Homo sapiens: one gene and its partners. The protein of the gene in region 1 interacts with the protein of each later gene in a biochemical or structural test. Each region holds a gene or a part of one and is shown on either strand. Other genes may lie near its edges.

Region 1 (7,796 bases):
TGTGGGAAATGCTATTTGAAGATAATAATCTAGGCACAGATATAGTCATTGTTTCTAGTTAGGCCATTTCTTTTTCTTCTTCTTCTTTTTTTTTTTTTTTTTTTTTTTTCTTTTGCGACAGGTCTTGCTCTGTTGCCCAGGCTGGAGTACAATGGCATAATCATAGCTCACTACATCCTCAAACTCCTGGGCTCAAGTGCTTCGCCTTCCTCAGCCTCCCAAGTACCTGGGACTATAGGTGCATGCCACCATGCCTGGCTGATTTTTTTTTTTTTTTTCTAGATACGGAGTCTTGCTACGTTGCCCACGCTGGTCTTGAACTCCTGGGCTCAAGTGATCCTCCTGCTTCAGCCTCCCAAAATGTTGATATTACCGGCATAAGCCACTGTGCCTGGCCTAGTTTGGGCATTTCTAGGCCTTTTTAGTAGACTGAACTAAAAGAGACTATAATATAGTCTCTTTTGCTGAAAATCTGGGTTCCTAACCACACAAGTATTTGCTCTTCCTAATGTATACATAAATACATAGGTATGCATATATGTAACAATACCAATATTTTCTAGCCATAGTATGACTGAAGGTAAGCTTTCTTTGGGGTAGTATAAAATTTCTGTGTTTGCCAATCACTTGAAATAATAACTCCTTGTGTGCATCACACACATCCATGTTGCTGCCTGTGTCAGTCAGTGTAGAGTTCTCCAGAAAATCGGAGCCCAATATGATAGATGCAAGAGATTGATCAGGAGGAGTGGCTTAAGTGGTTATGGAGTCTGAGAAGTCCCATGATCTGCTGTCTGCAAGATGGAGACCCAAGAAAGCCTGTGGTATAACTTAGTCCCACTCCAAAGCCCTGAGAACCAGGGACACCAGTGGCATAAGTCCTGGAGTCAAAAGACCTGAGAACCAGGAGCTCTGATGTCTGAGGGTGGAAGAGGATGTCCCAACTCAAGAAGAGACAGAATTTGCCCTTCCTCTACTTTTTGTTCTTTTCAGACTCAACAGGTTGGATGATGCCCCAGATACTGCCCAGGTTGGTGAGGGCGGATCTTCTGTACTCAGTCTACTGATTCAAATGCTAAAGTCTTCCAGAAACACCCTCATAGTCAGAAGTAATGTTGACCACCTATCGGGTATGTCTTAGCCCGGGCAAACTGAGGCATAAAATTAACTATCACAGTATTTCTTTTGGATTACCGAGTAGAATACCGTGGTATGAATATGGCACAGTCTGATTACCTTTTCTCCTGTGGGTGGACATTTGGTGTCTTTCTAGTTTGGGGCTATTATGGATAATGATTCTTGTATGAGTTTGCTTTTGTTTTCCTGATATATATGCCAAGGAGTGGAATTGCTGAGTCATAGGGTAGGCGTATCATTAACTTTATTAGACAGTGCTGAACAGTTTTCTAAAGTATTTACATCAGTTTACACTTCCACCAGTAGTGTGCCAGAGGTCCCGTTGTTCTCAATCTCCTGTATTGATTTCCGTCATTTCTATTTTTCTTTTTCTTTCTTTTTTTTTTTTTTTTTTTCAGACTGAGTCTGTTTCTGTCGCCCAGACTGGAGTGCAGTGGCATGATCTTGGCTCACTGCCCTCTGGGTTCAAGTGATTCTAGTGCCTCAGCCTCCGAGTAGCTGGGATTACAGGCGCCACCACCATGCCTGGCTGTTATTATTATTATTATTATTATTATTTTTGAGATGGAGTTCTGCTCTTGTTGCCCAGGCTGGAGTGCAATGGCGCAATCTCGGCTCACTGCAATCTCCGCCTCCCAGGTTGAAACGATTCTCTGGCCTCAGCCTCCTGAGTAGCTGGGATTACAGGTGCCTGCCACCGCGCCTGACCTATTTTTTCTATTTTTAGTAGAGATGGGGTTTCACCATGTTGGCCAGGCTGGTCTCAAATTCCTGACCTCAAGTGATCCGCCCGCTTCAGCCTCCCAGATGCTGCAATTACAGGCGTGAGCCACTACGCCTGGCTTCTCCTAGTTTTCTTATTCTGATATTTGCTCAACATTTTTTTCCAACCCTGTACTGAATTTTGTATGTCTGTTATCAAAGCTTTTTTTTTTTTTTTTTTTGAGACAGAATCTCACTCTGCCACCCAGGCTGGAGTGCAGTGGTGCCATCTCAGCTCACTGCAACCTCCAAGTCCCGGGTTCAATGGATTCTCTTGCCTCAGCCTCCCTAGTATCCCGAGTAGCTGGGATTACAGGCACACACTACCACTCTGTATAGTTTTTGTATTTTTATAGAGAAGGGGTTTTGCCATGTTGGCCAGGCTGGTCTGGAACTCCTAGCCTCAAGCAATCTGCCTGCTTTGGCCTCCCAAAGCGTTGGGATTATAGATGTGAGCCACCATGCCCGGCTCAGATTTTGATTTTAGAATGTTCACACTTACAAATGGAAATTAAAATGCCTTGAGAAGTTTTTTTTCGAAGCTGAGTTAAGAGTTAGTCCCTTTATATCAATTTTCATTATTAAAAAGTTCTCAGGAACCAAATAACATTGGTCCCCTTAAATTGAGGCAGTTCTGCTCAAAATGGATGCTTGGGGCCCAAGCTGAACAACAGTGGTTGTTGAGGAATCTAGTTAGAATTGCGTTATAGGAATTCCCTTTTTTTTTTTTTTTTTTTTTTTTGAGACAGAGTCTCGCTCTCTCGCCCAGGCTGGAGTGCAGTGGCACGATCTCGGCTCACTGCAAGCCCCGCTTCCCGGGTTCACGCCATTGTCTTGCCTCAGCCTCCCGAGTAGCTGGGACTACAGGCGCCCGCCGCCACGCCCGACTAATTTTTTGTAATTTTTGTAGAGATGGGGTTTCACCATGTTAGCCAGGATGGCCTCGATCTCCTGACCTCATGATCCGCCCACCTCGGCCTCCTAAAGTGCTGGGATTACAGGCGTGAGCTACCGCGACCGGCAGGAATTCTTTAGTCCAACATTTGTGGTGCAAACTTTGAGGTTTTGAACAAATACTTTTTTTTTTTTTTTTGAGAAAATATTTGACAGCCCAGGGCCTCTCTCTAGAGCCGCATCCCCTGCCCGTGTTGGCTCATCAAGTTGGCACTGAAGTCGGATCTCTAAAATGTTCGCCAAGAAAGCCAACTCCTTCATGTACTTTTAATACTTAAAGCATGTGTTTTTATCTTTTAAATCCACAGTTCAGAGTCGTGACACTTCAAGAGGTGGGCAGATTATTCATTTGTGAATGAACAGCATTTATGAGAAATTTGGAGAAATTTTATGTTTGAGAGACACGAAGAATCCAGAGCTTTCCAAAACAGACTGATGATCACACCCACCGGGGAGTTTATGAAAATGCAAGCCCCTGGAGCACGGGCCTCTGCTGGATATTCGGAATCATGGGGCTGAGTAGGGCCAGGAATCTGTACTTTTAGAACAGCCATATTATCTAAAGTATATAGTCATTCCCAGTCCAAGCTCTGTAAATCCTGAAGAGAAAAATCTAAAAACTGCATATCCGGATTATGTTATTCTAGCTTCCTGTAGAAATCAGGCTTCAAGGAGCATACAGCCATTCTCATCAACATGAGACACGGATTTGTAGGCAATTTCTGTACCTTTCATAAAGCTGGCTAAAAGCATCAGCCGGTATTTATATAAGAATCCATGTCTGTTCTTTTTTTCCAAAAATCCTAGAGCAGTTGGCTCCTCAGATAACCCTGTGTGTTTCTTTTATCCAGTAAAAGCAGCGCATCCAGAGGTACTTGTTTCCTGGCCTTCTGCGAAGCCCACAGATAAATTAGGTCTCATTTGGAAACGTCCCATTTCGAAAAGCCTGAGGTATCTATCTCTGCCTACCGACTGATTTACAGCCTCACTTTAAAATGTTAGTCTGTTCTTAAAAAGGGTTTATAACTGCATCTACTATAATAATAAAATGTAAGCAACCTTGCGCTAGGTACTGAACAATTTCATAGCTTTGAACTCTCCAAAATGTTCTAGAAGCCAATACAGAAAACCCAAAAATCTCAGTTTTTGTTTGCAGAAGGGGCAAGAGAACCGGTTGTGTTAGCCCTCCAAGTGCCCAGCGCCAGCATAGGGTCTGTCTAACACACAGCCCAGGCTCTGTAAACCTTTGCTAAAAGAGCGAATCAACAAGGAATAAGTAATGGATAATAATAATAAATAATAATGAATCCATTCTTCCTTCGGTCGTGGGTCTGGCAGGCATAAATTCCGGCCGGGATTCCGACCCCAGGGCCAGAGCAGGACTCGCCTTGGCGTCTATGAGTGGGCGGGGCTTCCCTGGGGTACCGCCCACGTCGGGCGGGACCTGAGGGCCGCTGGAGGGGCGGGGCGTCTATGAGGTCCCGCCCATGCGGGGGCGGGGCCTGCGGCGCGCGGGAAGCGGCGCGCGCTGCGCGGGAGGTGACGGTGCCTCTGACTGTCCGGGTCCCTCCAGGTACGGCTTCCCTGGCCCGGGCAGCTCCGCGGCTCTTTTGGTCGCGTCGGTCCGGGCCAGAGGCCCTCGCCGAGGGCGGGCCCCTGGGCCCCGGGATAGCTCCGGAGCGGCGCGCGTTGGGGCGGCGGGGCCCCGTCCACCCCCGGCCCCGCGCGGCCTCCTCCCGGCGGCCTCAGTCCCAGCTTCCCGGGCCCAGCGCCCGGTCCCTGGGAAAGGCGGGGTTCTCCTCTCGCCCCGCCGCCCCGGTCCCCTACCCCGTTTGGCCCCCTCTTCCGGGAGGCTCCTCCCGGGGCGGGCCCCTCCCCGGGCTCTCAGGGCGCGCCCCTAGCCCCTACTAAGCGGGGACAGGCCGTGCAGACGGCCGGGGCCCCTAGGTAGCCTTTACCTGGGTGTTTCGTTTTGCTTTTCTGGATGTAGCGGCGTATCATAAACTTGTGGATGTCAGGACCCAGCGAAGCATTTTAGGTGGAGCTAGCAAGGTGTTATTGTCAGATGGCAACGTTAACATCCTTTCCCAATGCAGTGTGCATTTTAAATGGCTCCTGGCCCCTATTCAGCGCTCAATAACCCTTTGCTGCTGTTAACACTGTTGTTTAATCCATCACCAGCATTTTGCAGCTTTCTCCTGTCTTGAAGAAGTAGAACGGTGCCCGAGAAACGTTTTTCCCCTTCGAGACTCAGGAGGATGAAAGTCATCACTTGTGAAATAGCCTGGCACAACAAGGAGCCCGTGTACAGCCTGGACTTCCAGCATGGGACGGCTGGGAGGATCCACAGACTGGCGTCTGCCGGCGTGGACACCAATGTCAGGGTAAACTGGGGCAGAGATAGACATCCGGGAACACTGCTTGAAGCAATAGTTTTCATTCTTTTACTTAAAACCAGTGTCGGCTGGGCGCGGTGGCTTACGCCTGTAATCCCAGTGCTTTGGGAGGCTGAGGTGAGAGGATCGCTTGAGTCCAGGAGTTCGACACCAGCCTGGGCAACAGCCAGACATGAAAAAGTAGCGGGACGTGGCAGTGTGCAGCTGTAGGCCCAGCTACTTGGGAAGTTGAAGTGAGAGGATCGCTTGAGCCTAGGAGTTTGAAGCAAGCAACGATCACTCCACTGCACTCCAGCCTGGGTGACAGAGCCAGACCCTTCTCTTAAGTAAATGAATGAATGAATTAACGTATGTCAACAAACTAAACTACTTTGTCATCTAGCCCAGAATGCTAAATTTCCAGGGCCTGCGGTGAACAATGAAAGCAAAAGAGAGCTGCTTTCTTTTTTTTTTTTTTGAGACGGAGTCTTGCTCTGTTGCCCAGGTGGGAGTGCAGTGGTGCAATCTCGACTTACTGCAACCTCTGTCTCCCAGGTTCAAGCTATTCTCCTGCCTCAGCCTCCCAAATAACTGGGACTACAGCCGCTCATCACCACACCTGGCTAATTTTTGTATTTTTAGTAGAGATGGGGTTTTACCATGTTGGCCAGGCTGGTCTCAAACTCCTGACCTCAGGTGATCCACCCACCTTGGCCTCCCAAAGTGCTGGGATTACAGGCCTGAGCCACCATGCCCGGCTCTGCTTTCTTATTTGATTCATTTTCCCTAGATTATTGTAACTGGACGTTCATTGTTTTGGGATCCTGATCCTGGTTCCTACTGGGTAACAAGTTGCTCTAGAAAGAAGGCGGAGGGGGACAGTAGACATTTATGTTTTAGATAGGGAGTTCTTTGATTTTATGTTTCAAAAGAAAAACTAAGTTTTCTTTCTGAAAATAAGCATAGTTTTGTTTTTTTTTTTTTTTTGAGACAGGGTCTTACTCTGTCGCCCAGGCTGGAGTGCAGTGGCCTGATCTTGGCTCAGTGCAGCCCCGACCCGGGGCTCAAGTGATCCTCCCTCTTAAGCCTCCCGCATAACTGGAACTACAGGCATGTGCCATCACACTTGGCTAATTTTTTAAATTTTCTGTAGAGACTAGGTCTCACTGTGTTTCCAGGCTGGTCTTGAACTCCTGGCCTCAAGTGATTTACCCACCTTGGCCTCCTAAACTGCTGGGATTACAGTTGTGAGCCACCACACCCAGCCCATAGTATTGTTTTAATACAGACAGTATAATATGTGCCCATTCTATGTTTTTCAAATGAATGTGTTGGTATTGACAGATCTGGAAGGTAGAAAAGGGACCAGATGGAAAAGCCATCGTGGAATTTTTGTCCAATCTTGCTCGTCATACCAAAGCCGTCAATGTTGTGCGTTTTTCTCCAACTGGGGAAATTTTAGCATCGGGAGGAGATGGTGAGTATTGCTGTCCTTCAGAGATTCTTCGGGAACCAGATAGATACCTGTGTGTCTTGTGTCAGATAGTGAGATTTGAGCTGGATATGCTTTTTTTTTTTTTTTGAGATAGAGTTTCACTCTTGTTCCCCAGGCTGGAGTGCAGTGGTGCAAACTCGACTCACTGCAACCTCCGCCTCCTGGGTTCAAGCGATTCTCCTGCCTCAGCCTCCTGAGTAGCTGGGATTACAGGCGCCTGCCACCACGCCCGGCTAGTTTTTTTGTGTGTTTTTAGTAGAGACAGGGTTTCATCATGTTGGTCAGGCTGATCTCGAACTCCTGACCTCAGGTGATCCACCTGCCTCGGCCTCCCAAAGTGTTGGGATTACAGGCGTGAGCCACTGCGCCCGGCCTGGATATGCTTTTTAGTTCAGGTGTGGCTGACCCTCTCAATCTGTCATTTAGGTAGTTCAGTAAAATACTGTTCTAGGGAATGTGGTAGAGTCAGGGAGGGAGGACAGCAAGATGAAACCAGGAACACCTGTTTGAAAACAGCTGCTTTCCCGCAAGCTCCCACCAGGCTGTTCTAAGACGAGATGGAAAGGCACTTACCATTCTGTCACATCCCAAGCAAGGCGACTGTTCTGGTTTTGTTGGATTGTTAGTTTAACATCTGTGGTGATCAGAGTCAGTTCTGTGTCTCTGTGTAATTAATTAAATGGCTTTAGGACTGTGTTAGTAATTAATTGGCTTTGGGAGTTTTTTTTTTTTTTTTTTTTGAGACAGTCTCACTGTTATCTAGGCTGGAGTGCAGTGGCACAATCTTGGCTCACTGCAACCTCTGCCTCCCAGGTTCAAGCGATTCTCCTGCCTCAGCCTCACAAGTAGCTGGGATTACAGGCGCCTGCCACCACCCCCGGCTAATTTTTGTATTTTTAGTAGAGATGGGGTTTCGCCTTGTCAGCCAGGCTGGTCTCAAACTCCTGAGCTCAGGCAATCTGCCTGCCTCGGCCTCCCAAAGTGCTAGGATTACAGGCGTGAGCCACCGCGCCCGGGCTATTTGGGCATGAATTCTAAACTGGGATATGAAAGAATTCAGCAATGGCAAAGTT
Region 2 (5,327 bases), on another chromosome or scaffold:
ACTGGGGAGACCCTATAACTCAGCAAGAAAGGAAAACAAGAGGGGAGAATTGCAGGTAAGAGATGGTAGAAACAAGTGCTCCGCTCCAGAGGCCTCACATATCAGTGGGAGGATATCTGGGTTTGGTGACCCCTTCATCTTCCTCACTTCTCTCTTCTGTGAGTTTCTGCCTATCTCCATTAGATTCAGGGCTACATCAGGCTTATATTATTCGATAATTTCTTGATTATCCACATACTTTCCTCCTCCTAACTTCCAACTGACCTCACACCATGTTCCTGACCTGCAAGCCTTCCATCCTCAGAGAAGTTTCTTTGGTATTTGTGAAGCAAATCAGAAAGATAAAATACAAAGTTTACAAATTCACATATTTTCAAACCTGATTTAGACTGCATTTGCTTGATGTGGTATTCCATAAGTTCTAATAGCCATGAGATGACTCTTCCAGGGATCCCTAGGTTGCTGAAGCCTAATATTTATTCTCTGAACCATTAGGAGCAGAGAAGAGCATGGAAACCAGGAAAGGTACACACTGAACCAGTTAAGGAAATAAGAGTAGGAAACAGGATACGCATTATCTTATTTCCTCAGGCTTGCGCCAACCTGTGGTTATTTGCAGAAAGTCAGAGACCAATAATCCTTAGAAAAGAAGCCCATGTTCTCCAAGTCTTGTTGCTCTTTCAGAAATTGAGCTGACACTCCAGGGCCCAAATTAAAGAAGGGGCATAAGACCCAGATCTTTAAACCACCACTCAGAATCCATATTTGAAAAGCAACCATTTATTAGAACCAATACAAGAGTATGAAAAGGGGGAAAAGAGGAGGGTAGAAGAGGGGGAGAGAATGAGGTCTGCATCAGATGTCAGTTATGGAAACACATAAATGCTTACTTTTTAAACATTTACATTTAAAAGGTGAACATATATATAGACCACTTATACTTTAAAAAAAAAATCAAAAGCAGACATGTTTGGCTGAAATAAAACCAAGAAACACAGCTAAAACTCCCCCATAAACCTAAAAGTCCATGGAGAATTCAATTTCTCATTTCCATTCAGAAATCTGGCTACAAAGTGATTTGTTTGCTATTTGGGACAGTACAGAGTGCTGAAAGAAACCCAGCTCTTGAGTCTCTTAGATCCCATCCTGTAGGAAGTGGTGGGAAAGCCAGCGGACCATGGGCAAGTCAACTCCTGGCTACTTGGCAGGGAGTCAGACTGTGCTCTCTCCATTCCCCAGGACTCCACAGAACCATCTGGTACTGCTAGTGCTGGGTGAACAGTGAGAGCAGAGTCCACAAAACACAGAGAACCAGAATGTGACCGCAAGGAGCCAGGACCTTGTGCTTTTTCATGGATTACAAATCTAGGGCCAAGGAGAGGGAAAGCAGAAAGAGCCCTATTGGGAAGAGGAGCTGGCTGCGCCCCTAAACTGAGATGGAAAGAGTAAGGCTCTTGAGCCCACACCTGGCCAAGTAGAAATAGTGTCCAAAGTTTTCTCAAACCAGAGGGAAAAAAGGTCAAGGTTAGGTTCAGACTGCAGACACTAAGAGATGACAGATGTTGAATACGGTGAATGGGATGAAGCTTTAAGGATCAATGCCCAATTCTGAGTGTTATACACATTTCTAGGAAAAATAATTCCAATGTAGCTTTTGGGGGTGGGGGGTGGAAATAAGGTGGTCACATTTATTCAATCAGCTGGTCCCTATGAGGAAGGAGAGGCCCAGGTACAGATACCACAAAGGGGTACAGTGACCCAGCTGTCCTGGGATTGGTTGGGGAGTGGTAAGCAATGACATAAATCAAAACCATTGAGGGTTGCTTTGATCCTGAGACAGTCTGAGTCTGCTTCAAACCCATGGGGAAAGGAACTTTAATCCCCAACCTGCAGAGAGAAATACGCAGTAGCATCCCTGCCTCACGATTCCCTAATCCAATGCTCTTGAATCTGAAATGGCCTCCCTCTGTGAATGCAAGACACAGAAAATCCCAAGTGCCTTCCCCAACAACATCCTAAGTAAGTCTGGACTAGTAAGATTCCAACATTCATGAAAACACTGTCAACATCTGAACTAGCAGCTTTGATGAGGGGTGGGGGGCAGAAAATTTGCCGAGTCACTAAGTAGTTCCAGTCTTGGAGACAGCTCAGTGAGGACCAAAGCCTGTGTGTCAGGCTTAAACTCTGGCTCAAGACATCCTCCACAGAGGACCCTGAAGTATTCTATTAACTTTGATTTACAATGCCTCACAACAACACCCCTGTGAGGTAGGTCAGTATTATTAACCCCATTTGACAGATGGGGAACTGAGGCATTGAAAGAAGTGACTTGCCCAAGGTCAACCATTATCAATCAGTTGAGGAGGTGGGCACACAGAGTCAGCATCCACTCGATTCTTGTTCCATTTCCCAGAGCATTTTACCTCTCAGAGTGTACTTGGGAGCAGAGGGAAGTTGGCAGGATACACCTCATTCCACAAACTAGATTAATTCAATAACTGAAGGGTATTAACTGAGGGCCTATTATTTATCTAGTATAATGTGAGGAATCTTGGAAAAATGAACTGCTTCTGAAAGTCATGTTATAGATGTTTTGAAAATAAAATTACATCTTTAACATTAAGGACATGAATTATTTTGTAAAGAAATATTCACTTTATCTTAGGAGGTGAAGGACTAAGTCACACTGATTTCTCAGAGTTTTATACTGAGTAACCTGAATTCCTAAAATCCAGAAAGCAAGATCACATTCCAACAGAAACAATGAATAAGAACCTTTTCCCCAGTGGTGGTTCTTGGTAGCGCTCTTATAAAGCTGCAAGTTGGTGGCGTGGGAATCCTAGCACCACAAAACACCCTCTTACTACATCACATCCCTCCCCACAATACCCAGAGGGCTGCATTTTTCCAACCTTTCTGCCTCAGCTCAACTTCAAGAGTTACAGCATCTTCAAAAACACCTCAAGGGTAAGGATACAAATGGTGACCCCTGCTTTTCTATTCAGGGAGAGGGGATGAAAATATTCTCTGTAACTAATCATATAGACTCTTGAATTCTTTCCTCCTGTGAGAGATGTAACTCTTTAACAAAAAAAAGGTAGAAGAAAAAACAGTTATGTCTTTTCTCCCCCTTTGGATTTACTTTGGATTCTGGTAGAAATCATTATGTCTCTTATCCTAAACTGAGGAGGTGAGGGGTGAGGGTGACACGAGACAAACACCAAACTCACCACCAGCCCTCGTTTAGAATCCAATCCTAAAGCTACCGGAAACCAGAACACTGACTTGAGCCTTAAGAGTGTTGTGACATGATTAAACTGTCTTTTCAGGTGTTCTCAAAGAATTTCTAGGCAGAAAGCCTCTCCTTTCTTCCATACCTCTTCACAGCAGCCAGTGTAGGAAGTCCCCACATACAACAGAAACTCAAAAGATGATTTATCAACACATACAGTAAAATGTTCACTAGGGGCCGGGTGCGGTGGCTTATGCTTGTAATCCCAGCACTTTGGGAGGCTGAGGCACGTGGATCACTTGAGCTCACGAGTTGGAGACCAGCCTGGGCAACACAGGGAGACTGTCTCTACAAAACATTTTTTAAATAATAAAATTAGCCAGACACCGTGGTGTGCGCCTGTAGTCCCAGCTGCTTGGGAGGCTGAGGCAGGAGGATCATTTGAGCCCAGGAGATTGAGGCTGCAGTGAGCTGTAATAAAGATACTGTGGCCGGGTGCTGGCTCACGCCTGCAATCCCAGCACTTTGAGTGGCCGAGGCAGGCGGATCACAAGGTCAGGAGTTCAAGACCAGCACGGCCAAGATGGTGAACCCTGTCTCTACTAAAAATACAAAAATTAGCCGGGCATGGTGGCAGGCGCCTATAATCCCAGCTGCTCAGGAGGCTGAGGCAGAGAACTGCTTGAACCCGGGAGGCGGAGGTTGCAGTGAGCCAAGATCACGCCACTGCACTCCAGCCTGGGCAAAAGAGCAAGTTTCCATCTCAAAAAAAAAAAAAAAAAAAAAAAAAAAAGGTTCAATATGGATACTCTAGGTACAGGAACCATTCCAAGACCTAAATAGATTTTTTTTTTTTTCCTCACTGATAGCTGATCACATTAAACAGGTACAGGTGCTAAGAAAGTTTAAGACTGATCTTTTGGCAATGACAGTTTAGGTTAACTCTGTTTGGAATTCCTAAAAATAAAAAGAAATCCCTTAAAAAAGGCTGACAAACTGACCACTTGGCCTTGAATCGACTGTTAGGGTCACACCTGCCAATGCCAGGGGACATCACAAAAAAATAGAGAATGCCAAGATAAAAAGTTCACTGCATTCAATTTGGCCTAATTTCTTGATAATAGTTTCCTATTAGATTTTCCGATTAATACTGATGGCTCTTACCTAGGCTGTGATAATTAGGTTTTGATCTATTGTGACATTAATGATCACAATCAGTTGACTTTGAAATTGTCTTAATTAATGGCTCTTTCCTTGTCAGCTTTTGCCTCCAGTGCAGGATTCATTCCCTTCCCCACTGCCTTGTTTTAACTCCTTCTCTTACTGACCTCAGAAACAAATAGCATTGGAGGATCACTTTCTTCCCATAAAACAAGACTTTAAACTATTTTAAAACATTTCTCTTGACAGAGGAGCAATATGAGATGATGTTAGATGAAATGAGGATCAGAATGAAAAGGCAAGAGAACAAGCTGTCAATGAACAGGAAAAATTCCATCTTAGAAAACAACCAAAGTCAAGCACAATGTTAAAGTGACAAGTTGAAGTAACTCTAAAAAGACAAGATGAGGTAGATTAAAATCCAAGAAAGTCAGCACAAGCAAAAAGAAACCAGAATTGTTTTTATGAAACTATCTAAAAAACTTCACACTTTAACTTTCCAGAGCAGTTACTCTAATTCCTGGGAATTCTGACTTCCAAAGTTAGTCAACTCTCAATTATCCAGGCAGAAATAAATATCTTTTTCTTGTGGTCATCCATGGGTCAGAATCGACAACATCCTTACGATCAGACTGTTTCTTAACCCAGCTACGCTTCGATGATTAAATCTGAGACTCAGATTTAATATACAAGGTATATGTATTTCTGGCAAAGGTTTCCACATAACTGATACAATTCTCTGCTTAGAAATCACCCTCTCGGCCCGGCGGTGGCTCACGCCTGTAATCCCAGCACTCTGGGAGGCCGAGGTGGGTGGATCATGAGGTCAGGAGATTGAGACCATCCTGGCTAACAAGGTGAAACCCCGTCTCTACTAAAAATACAAAAAATTAGCCGGGCGTGGTGGCCGGCGCCTGTAGTCCCAGCTCCTCGG
Region 3 (7,646 bases), on another chromosome or scaffold:
GGCACAGGGCCCACCAGCACCGAGTCTAGGATCTGATCAAATTCCTCACTCTCAGCCGAGCCAACATAAATGATCTTCCACTCCAGGTCTGCAAAGATATAGGAGGGTTAACTAATTGAAATAGCTCAACAGCAAGAAGGCAGGGATAGGCTCTTGTATTTTTTTTTTTTTTTGAGATGGAGTCTCGTTCTGTCACACAGGTTAGAATACAGTGATGCGATCTCAGCTCACTGCAACTTCCGCCTCCCAGGTTCCAGTGATTCTCATACCTCAGCCTCCCGAGTGGCTGGGATTATAGGTGCCCGCTGCCACGCCTAGCTAATTTTTTTTTTCTTTTTTGAGATGGAGTTTCACTCTTGTCACCCAGGTTGGAGTACAATGGTGTGATCTTGGCTCACTGCAATCTCTGCCTCCCAGGTTCAAGCGATTCTCCTGTCTCAGCCTACTGAGTAGCTGGAATTACAGGCACCTGCCATCATGGCTGGCTAATTTTTTTATTTTTAGTAGAGACAGGGTTTCACCATGTTGATCAGGCTGGTTTAGAACTCCTGACCTCAGGTGATCCACCCGCCTTGGCCTCCCAAAGTGCTGGGATGACAGGTGTGAGCCACTGTACCTGGCCTGTTTTTGTATTTTTAGTAGAGATGGGGTTTCACCATGTTGGCCAAGCTGGTATCCAACTCCTGACTTCAAGTGATCTGCCCGCCTCAGCCTTCCAAACTGGTGGGATTACAGGTGTGAGCCACTGCGCCCGGCCACATCTTCTATTTTATTTTTATTTACTTATTTTTTGAGACAGTCTCCCTCTGTTGCCTAGGCTGGTGTGCAGCGGGATGTTCATGGCTCACTGTAGCCTCAACCTCCTGGGCTCAAGCGATCCTCCTGCCTCGGACTCCCACCATGTTGGGATCACAGGTGTGGGCTGCTGTGCCCAGCCTTGTGGTAATTTTAGACAGATCCTTAATATGTTAAAAGACTATTATTCCATCTGTCAGACACTTAGTGCCAGGCACTGCAGTCTTGAATGCTGAGGTGGGCACAAAGCTCTACCTCCATTAGGGAATTCTGTCTTGTAAGCCTAGCTATGACAGGTGACCTTGACTATACCTCTGGGGAAACCTGGGCCTCTCAAGGCCTGAGCGTGAACTGTATGGCAGAGGCTGAATTAAGAGCCACGTGACACAGACGTGCTGAGAAGGGAACGGCAGGGAGTTGGGTCATTTCAGGGCCCTGCCCACTGGGTGCTGGGATAGGAAGCAGCATCCTCTTTCACACACAGGGACCGGTGCCACTCAACGAAGTGGATCCCTCGACAACTGGGGCAGGGTGGCAGATTCCAATCCGGCAGGAGAGCCAGCCTGCAGGAGGGGGAAGGTGAGGTTGCTCAGGGAGCCAGCCACCCTGGTCTTCCAGATCTGGCACCAAGTCATGCCTACTTAGAGACATTTGGGCAACTCAGTCAACAAATGTGGCATCCCGGGGTGATCCTCCAAACACTTTTTTTTTTTGACAGTTTCACTCTTGTTGTCCAGGCTAGAGTGCAATGGTGAGATCTCGGCTCACTGCAACCTCTGCCTCCCGGGTTCAAGTGATTCTCCTGCCTCAGCCTCCTGAGTAGCTGGGATTATAGGCGCCCGCCACCACAGCCGGCTAATGTTTTGTATTTTTAGTAGAGATGGGGTTTCACCATGTTGGCCAGGTTGGTCTCGAACTCCTGACCTCAGGTCATCCATCCGCCTCCGCCTCCCAAAGTGCTGGGATTACAGGTGTGAGCCACCGTGCCCAGCCTCAAACCCTAACTCTTGCACCCCATCCAGCAGGAGGGCCCCCTCCCCTGAATATGCTCCATTGAGATGAAAGGAAAGTGCTTATGGAACCTCTGGCTGTCAATCACAGGAAATTCCGGTCAACATGGCCTCTTGCAGGAGGTCCAAGTGTATCAGGGGCAAGGTCATGCTGGTACAGGGAGGCTTGGCAAGAGGCTTGAAACTTATTTTTGGCTCTTTAGAAATTACACAACCCTTCAGCTCTAGCAGCTGGGGGAAGTTTCACAAGCTGTGATTTTCACAGGAAGCAAACTCTCTCAGAAGCTGCCCTGTTCCTTGGTCCAGTGTCCCACAAGAGCATCCAACTTTGGAAGCATGCTGCTGCCAGGTCATGACTACAGAGGCTTGTCACCTGAGCCCCATGCCCTTCTTTGATGCACTGGCTGCCTGTCCCTTTGTGGTTTCACTCAGGAACCCTATAGCAGGTCTGTAGGATACGGGTGACCATTGAACTCACAGGTGTTTGGTCGAACTAGCCTCTTACTATTTGCAGGGAGGAAGTTGACTTTTTTCACTGGAGATGGGGTCTCGGTCCGTCACCCAGGCTGCAGTGCAGTGGCATAATCATAGCTCACTACAGCCACAAATTCCTGCGCTCAAGTGATTCTCTTGCCTTAGCCTCCCAAGTAGCTGGGACCACAGGCTTGTGCCACACGCCCAGGGAATTTTTAAATTGTTTTTAGAGATGAGGTCTTGCTTGGTTGCCCAGCCTGGTCTCAAGCAATCCTCCCGCCTTGGCCTCCCAAAGTGCTGGAATTTGTCTGAGCCATCATGTCCAGCCTGTTGATTTATTTTTGTTACAAGTAGTGACACAACTGGAATCAAGTTTTGGGGGAAGACAGAAAAGCCAGCCAGCCCTGCTCTCTCCTTTCTAAAGCAGTTGTATCATTTTGGTGTATATCCTTGAGCCCTTTCCTCTCATAGCCGGTAGAATCCTGTACGGGTGCATTTAATTCATGTCCTGGGAAGGTAGACAAAAAAGACTAAAGTGTACCCACGAGCACCTGATGTTGTCCAGCTGAGGTCAATACTAATCGGCAAAACCTAAACAAAGAGCATGTGGAAACTCACCGAAATAAATGGGCCCCTGCAACATAGGCAGACTCGACTCTATTAAAAATCAACAAAATTAATTGGGTGTGGTGGCGCGTGCCGGTGGTCCCAGCTATGCGGGAGGCTAAGGTTGGAGGATCGCTTGAGCCTAGGAGTTCAGGGCTGCAGTGAGCCATGATCGAGCCACTGCATTCCAGCCTGGACGACAGAGACCCTATCTCAAAGGAAAAAAAAGAAAAAGAAAAAATGTACTGTGTTGACTGTCAGGCACAGGGGCTGAAATGGCTCTTTCAACCAGGGCTGGAAAGAAACTGGAGAATTAACTAACGGCTGTAGAGAAATACTGACTCAAGAGTTACAGAAGCTGGTTGGGCACGGCAGCTCACACCTGTAATCCTAGCACTTTGGGAGGCCGAGGCAGGCAGATTGCCTGAGCTCACGAGTTCGAGACCAACCTGGGCAACATGGTGAAACCCCATCTCTACTAAAAATATAAAAATTTAGCTGGGCATGATGGTGTGCACCTGTAATTCCAGCTACTCAGGAGTCTGAGGCATAAGAACTGCTTGAACCTGGGAGGCAGCAGAGATTGCAGTGAGCCGAGATTTTGCCACTGCACTCCAGCCTGGGCAACAGAGCCAGCCTCCGTCAAAAAAAAAAAAAAAAAAAAAAAAAAAAAAAAGAAGAAAGAAGGAAAGAAAGGAAGAAAAAAAGAGTTATAGGTATAGGGCCAGGTGAGGTGGATCATTGGATCATGGCTGTAATCCTAGCACTTTGGGAGGCTGAGGCGGGTGGATTGCTTGAGCTCAGAAGTTCGAGATCAGCCTGGGCAACATGGTGATACAAAAAATACAAAAAATTAGCCAGGCGTGGTGGCATGCCCCTGTAGTCTCAGCTACTCGGGAGGCTGAGGTTGCAGTGAACTGAGATCGTGCCTCTGCACTCCAGCCTGGGTGACAGAGTGAGACTCCATCTCTACTAAAAATATAAAAAATTAGCTGGGCGTGGTGGTGTGCACCTGTAATTCTAATTTATTTTATTTTATTTTGACATGGAGTCTCACTCTGTTGCCCAGACTAGAGTGCAGTGGCACGATCTCGGCTCACTGCAAGCTCCGCCTCCCGGGTTCATGCCATTCTTGTGCCTCAGCCTCCTAATCAGCTGGGACTACAGGCACCCCCCACCACGCCCGGCTAATTTTTTTTTCTATTTTTAGTAGAGACGGGGTTTCACTGTGTTAGCCAAGATGGTCTCGATCTCCTGACCTTGTGATCCGCCTGCCTTGGCCTCCCAAAGTGCTGGGATTACAGGCATGAGCCACTATGCCCAGTCGAGAATCATCTTAAATTTGCTGAAGTGCCCAGGCATGGTGATGTGCACCTGTGGTTCCAGCTACTTAGGAAGCTGAGGTGGGAGGACTGCTTAAGCCCAGGAGTTCAAGTCCAGTCTGGGCAACATAGTGACACCCTATCTCTTTAAAAAAAAAAAAAAAAATCTGGCTGCAGTGTTATAAGTAGAGACATACGTGTATGATTTCATCTCTAAATATAATCTTTCTTTAGAATTATACATGGGACACAAATCACCAATACAGCAGGAACTCATAGCTATGAGTACAGGACACAGCTGTACACATGACGTGTGTACCTAACCTTCTGAGCAATGTCAAGGCAACTCAACTGTGTCCCATGTTATCTCTCTGCGCTAACTTCACAAGCTAGTCCCTGTGCAAGACATACCTCCACTGTGTGTTTGTGTGTATATATATATATATATATATATAAATGATAAGACTAAAGACATGTACACAATTAGTATAGCTGAACTAGCTAAAAAGTCTGCTTCCTGCTTTTTTGTTGTTGTTTTTTTGAGACAGTCTTGCTCTGTCGCCCAGGCTGGAGTGCAATGGCGCAATCTGGGCTCACTGCAATTTCCATCTCCCGGGTTCAAGCGCTTCTCCTGCCTCAGCCTCCCAAATAGCTGGGACTACAGGCACCTGCCACCAAGCCTGGCTAACTTTTGTATTTTTAGTAGAGACAGGGTTTCACCACATTGGCCAGGCTGGTCTCAAACTCCTGACCTCAGATGATCCACCTGCCTTGGTCTCCCAAAATGCTGGGATTACAGGGGTAAGCCACTGTGCCTGGCCATTTTTTTTTTCTTTTTTTTTTTTTGAAACAGAGTCTCGCTCTGTCACCCAGGTTGGAGTGCAGTGGCACAATCTCAGCTCACTGCAACCTCTGCCTCCCGGGTTCTAGCGATTCTTCTGCCTCAGCCTCCTGAGTAGCTGGGATTATAGCTGCGTGCCACCATGCCTGGCTAATTTTTGTATTTAGTAGAGCCGGGGTTTCACCACGTCGGTTAGGCTGGTCTCGAACTCCTGACCTTGTGATCCATCCGCCTCGGCCTCCCAAAGTGCTGGGATTACAGGTGTGAGCCACCACACCTGGCTTTTTCTTTTTTTTTTTTTTTGAGATGGAGTCTTGCTTTGTTGCCCAGGTTGGGGTGCAGTGGTGCAATCTCGGCTCGCTGCAAGCTCTGCCTCCTGGGTTCACGCCATTCTCCTGCCTCAGCCTCCCGAGTAGCTGGGACTACAGGCGCCCGCCACCACACCCGGCTAATTTTTTGTATTTTTAGTAGAGACGGGGTTTCACCATGTTGGCCAGGCTGGTCTCGAACTTCTGACCTCAGGTAATCTGCCCGCCTTGGTCTCCCAAAGTGCTGGGATTACAGGCGTGAGCCACCATGCCAGGCCTCCTTTGTTTGTTTGCTTTTTGCCTTTGTTCATAATCAAAGATGAGCTCTGCTGCCATAACAACTTCGTTATTTCTGGGTCAGAACATCTGGCTTCTATGACTTATTCAACCAGTGTCTGTTGAATTTCTCAGCTAAATGTGGAAGAATCTATTTCCAGATGTGGAAGATAAAAGTGCAAAGGGGGCTTGGGGCCCCTGAGAAATAGGGGTCACCCAACTGGGGCTTAGGGGTTAGGGTGGTTTTTTTTTTTTTTTTTTTTGAGATGGGGGTCTTGCTCTCTCACCCAGGTTGGAGTGCAGTGGTGCAATCATGGCTCACTGCAGCCCTGACCTCCTGGGCTCATGCAATCCTCCCACTTCAGCCTCCTGAGTAGCTGGGACCACAGACACGTGCCACCAAGTCCCGTTAATTTTTTGATGTTTCTGTAGAGACAAGGTTTTGCTATGTTACCCAGGCTGGCCCAAATTCCTGGGCTCAAGAGATCCTCCTTCCTTAGCCTCCCAAAGTGCTGGAATTACAGGCATGAGCCACCTCACACAGCTGGGTTGGGGGTTTTGTCAGATTTTCAGTTGACGCTGCTGAGAGTGAGGCAGATTCTCCCTTTTTCATGGAGAGGAGTCCAGAAGGAGGCAGAAAGCAAGCTGGCAGATCAGTCACAGAGAGCCCTAGGACTGGAAGAGCCAGGATTTCTCACTTGAGTTACTCAAAGGAAAAGCTTTATCATCCAGGTACAATTAACAATAGCATTCTCTGGCCAGGCGCTTAGGATTCAAAGTGTAATCCCAGCACTTTGGGAGGCTGAAGTGGGCATATCACTTGCGATCAGGTTTGAGACCAGCCTGGCCAACATGGTGAAACCTCGTCTCTACTAAAGACACAAAAATTAGCCGGGCATGGTGGCTCAAGCTTGTAATCCCAACTACTTGGGATACTGAGGCCGGAGAATCGCTTGAACTCGAGAGGTGGAGATTGCAGTGAGCTGAGATTGCACCACTGCACTGTAGCCTGGGTGACATAGTGAGATTCCATTTCTAATAATAATCATCATCATCATCATAATCATACGACGGGCACGGTGGCTCACGCCTGTAATCCCAGGCCGAGGCGGGCGGATCACAAGGTCAGGAAATCGAGACCATCCTGGGTAACACAGTGAAACCCCGTCTCTACTAAAAATCCAAAAAGTTAGCTGGGCATGGTTTCGGGCGCCTGTAGTCCCAGCTACTTGGGAGATTGAGGCAGGAGAATGGCGTGAACCCGGGAGGCGGAGCTTGCAATGAGCCATGATCACGCCACTGCACTCCAGCCTGGGTGACACAGCGAGACTCCATCTCAAAAATAAATAAATAAATAAATAAATAAATAAATAATAATAATAGCACTTCCCTTCACTGCATTTTGAGTGTCCTGATTAGGCAATAAATTCTGTGGTCATTCCTATCTATGCTCCACCCCTGAAACAGGGAATCCTTCCTTTCTTTCCCTGGATTGGAGCAAAGATAAAGAATTTAGATTCAAAACTTCAGTGCCAATACTTCTACAAACTGGCTGTGTGACTCTGGTGAAGTCACTCCATTTCTATTAAAAAATGATCAGCAGAGGCTGGACGCAGTGGCTCACGCCTGTAATCCCAGCACTTTGGGAGGCTGAGGCGGGCGGATCACCTGAGGTCAGGAGTTCAAGACCAGCCTGGCCAAGATGGTGAAACCCCGTCTCTACTAAAAATACAAAAATTAGCCAGGCGTCATAGCAGGCACCTGTAATCCCAGCTGCTCGGGAGGCTGAGGCAGGAGAATCGCTTGAATCTGGGAGGTGGAGGTTGCAGTGAGCCAAGATCGCGCCATTGCACTCCAGCCTGGGGGACAAGAGCAAGACTTCATCTCCAAAAAAACAAAAAAAGGACCAGCAGGTTGAATTTAGCCCTTCCGGCTCTAATTCTATAAATAAGTTAGTAAAGTCACAGGGCAGGGGCTTCCTAGGAGTAGAAGTACCAGATAATGACCGCACAAC

What was found.
Region 2: the proteins of CHAF1B (region 1) and CBX5 interact in a test that uses a peptide from one of them, tested with the Homo sapiens proteins (one study listed by BioGRID).
Region 3: the proteins of CHAF1B (region 1) and ASF1B form a complex in vitro, tested with the Homo sapiens proteins (2 studies listed by BioGRID and IntAct).

The regions. Positions count from the first base shown.
Region 1 is NC_000021.9:36,381,026-36,388,821, forward strand, and holds the start of CHAF1B (chromatin assembly factor 1 subunit B), read left to right. Parts: upstream 1-4,366; 5' UTR 4,367-4,426; intron 4,427-5,034; 5' UTR 5,035-5,111; coding exon 5,112-5,237; intron 5,238-6,572; coding exon 6,573-6,705; intron 6,706-7,796. UniProt on the Homo sapiens protein: Acts as a component of the histone chaperone complex chromatin assembly factor 1 (CAF-1), which assembles histone octamers onto DNA during replication and repair.
Region 2 is NC_000012.12:54,230,182-54,235,508, forward strand, and holds the end of CBX5 (chromobox protein homolog 5), read right to left. Parts: 3' UTR 761-5,327; downstream 1-760. UniProt on the Homo sapiens protein: Component of heterochromatin that recognizes and binds histone H3 tails methylated at 'Lys-9' (H3K9me), leading to epigenetic repression. In contrast, it is excluded from chromatin when 'Tyr-41' of histone H3 is phosphorylated (H3Y41ph).
Region 3 is NC_000019.10:14,126,150-14,133,795, forward strand, and holds part of ASF1B (histone chaperone ASF1B), read right to left. Parts: intron 89-7,646; coding exon 1-88. UniProt on the Homo sapiens protein: Histone chaperone that facilitates histone deposition and histone exchange and removal during nucleosome assembly and disassembly. Cooperates with chromatin assembly factor 1 (CAF-1) to promote replication-dependent chromatin assembly.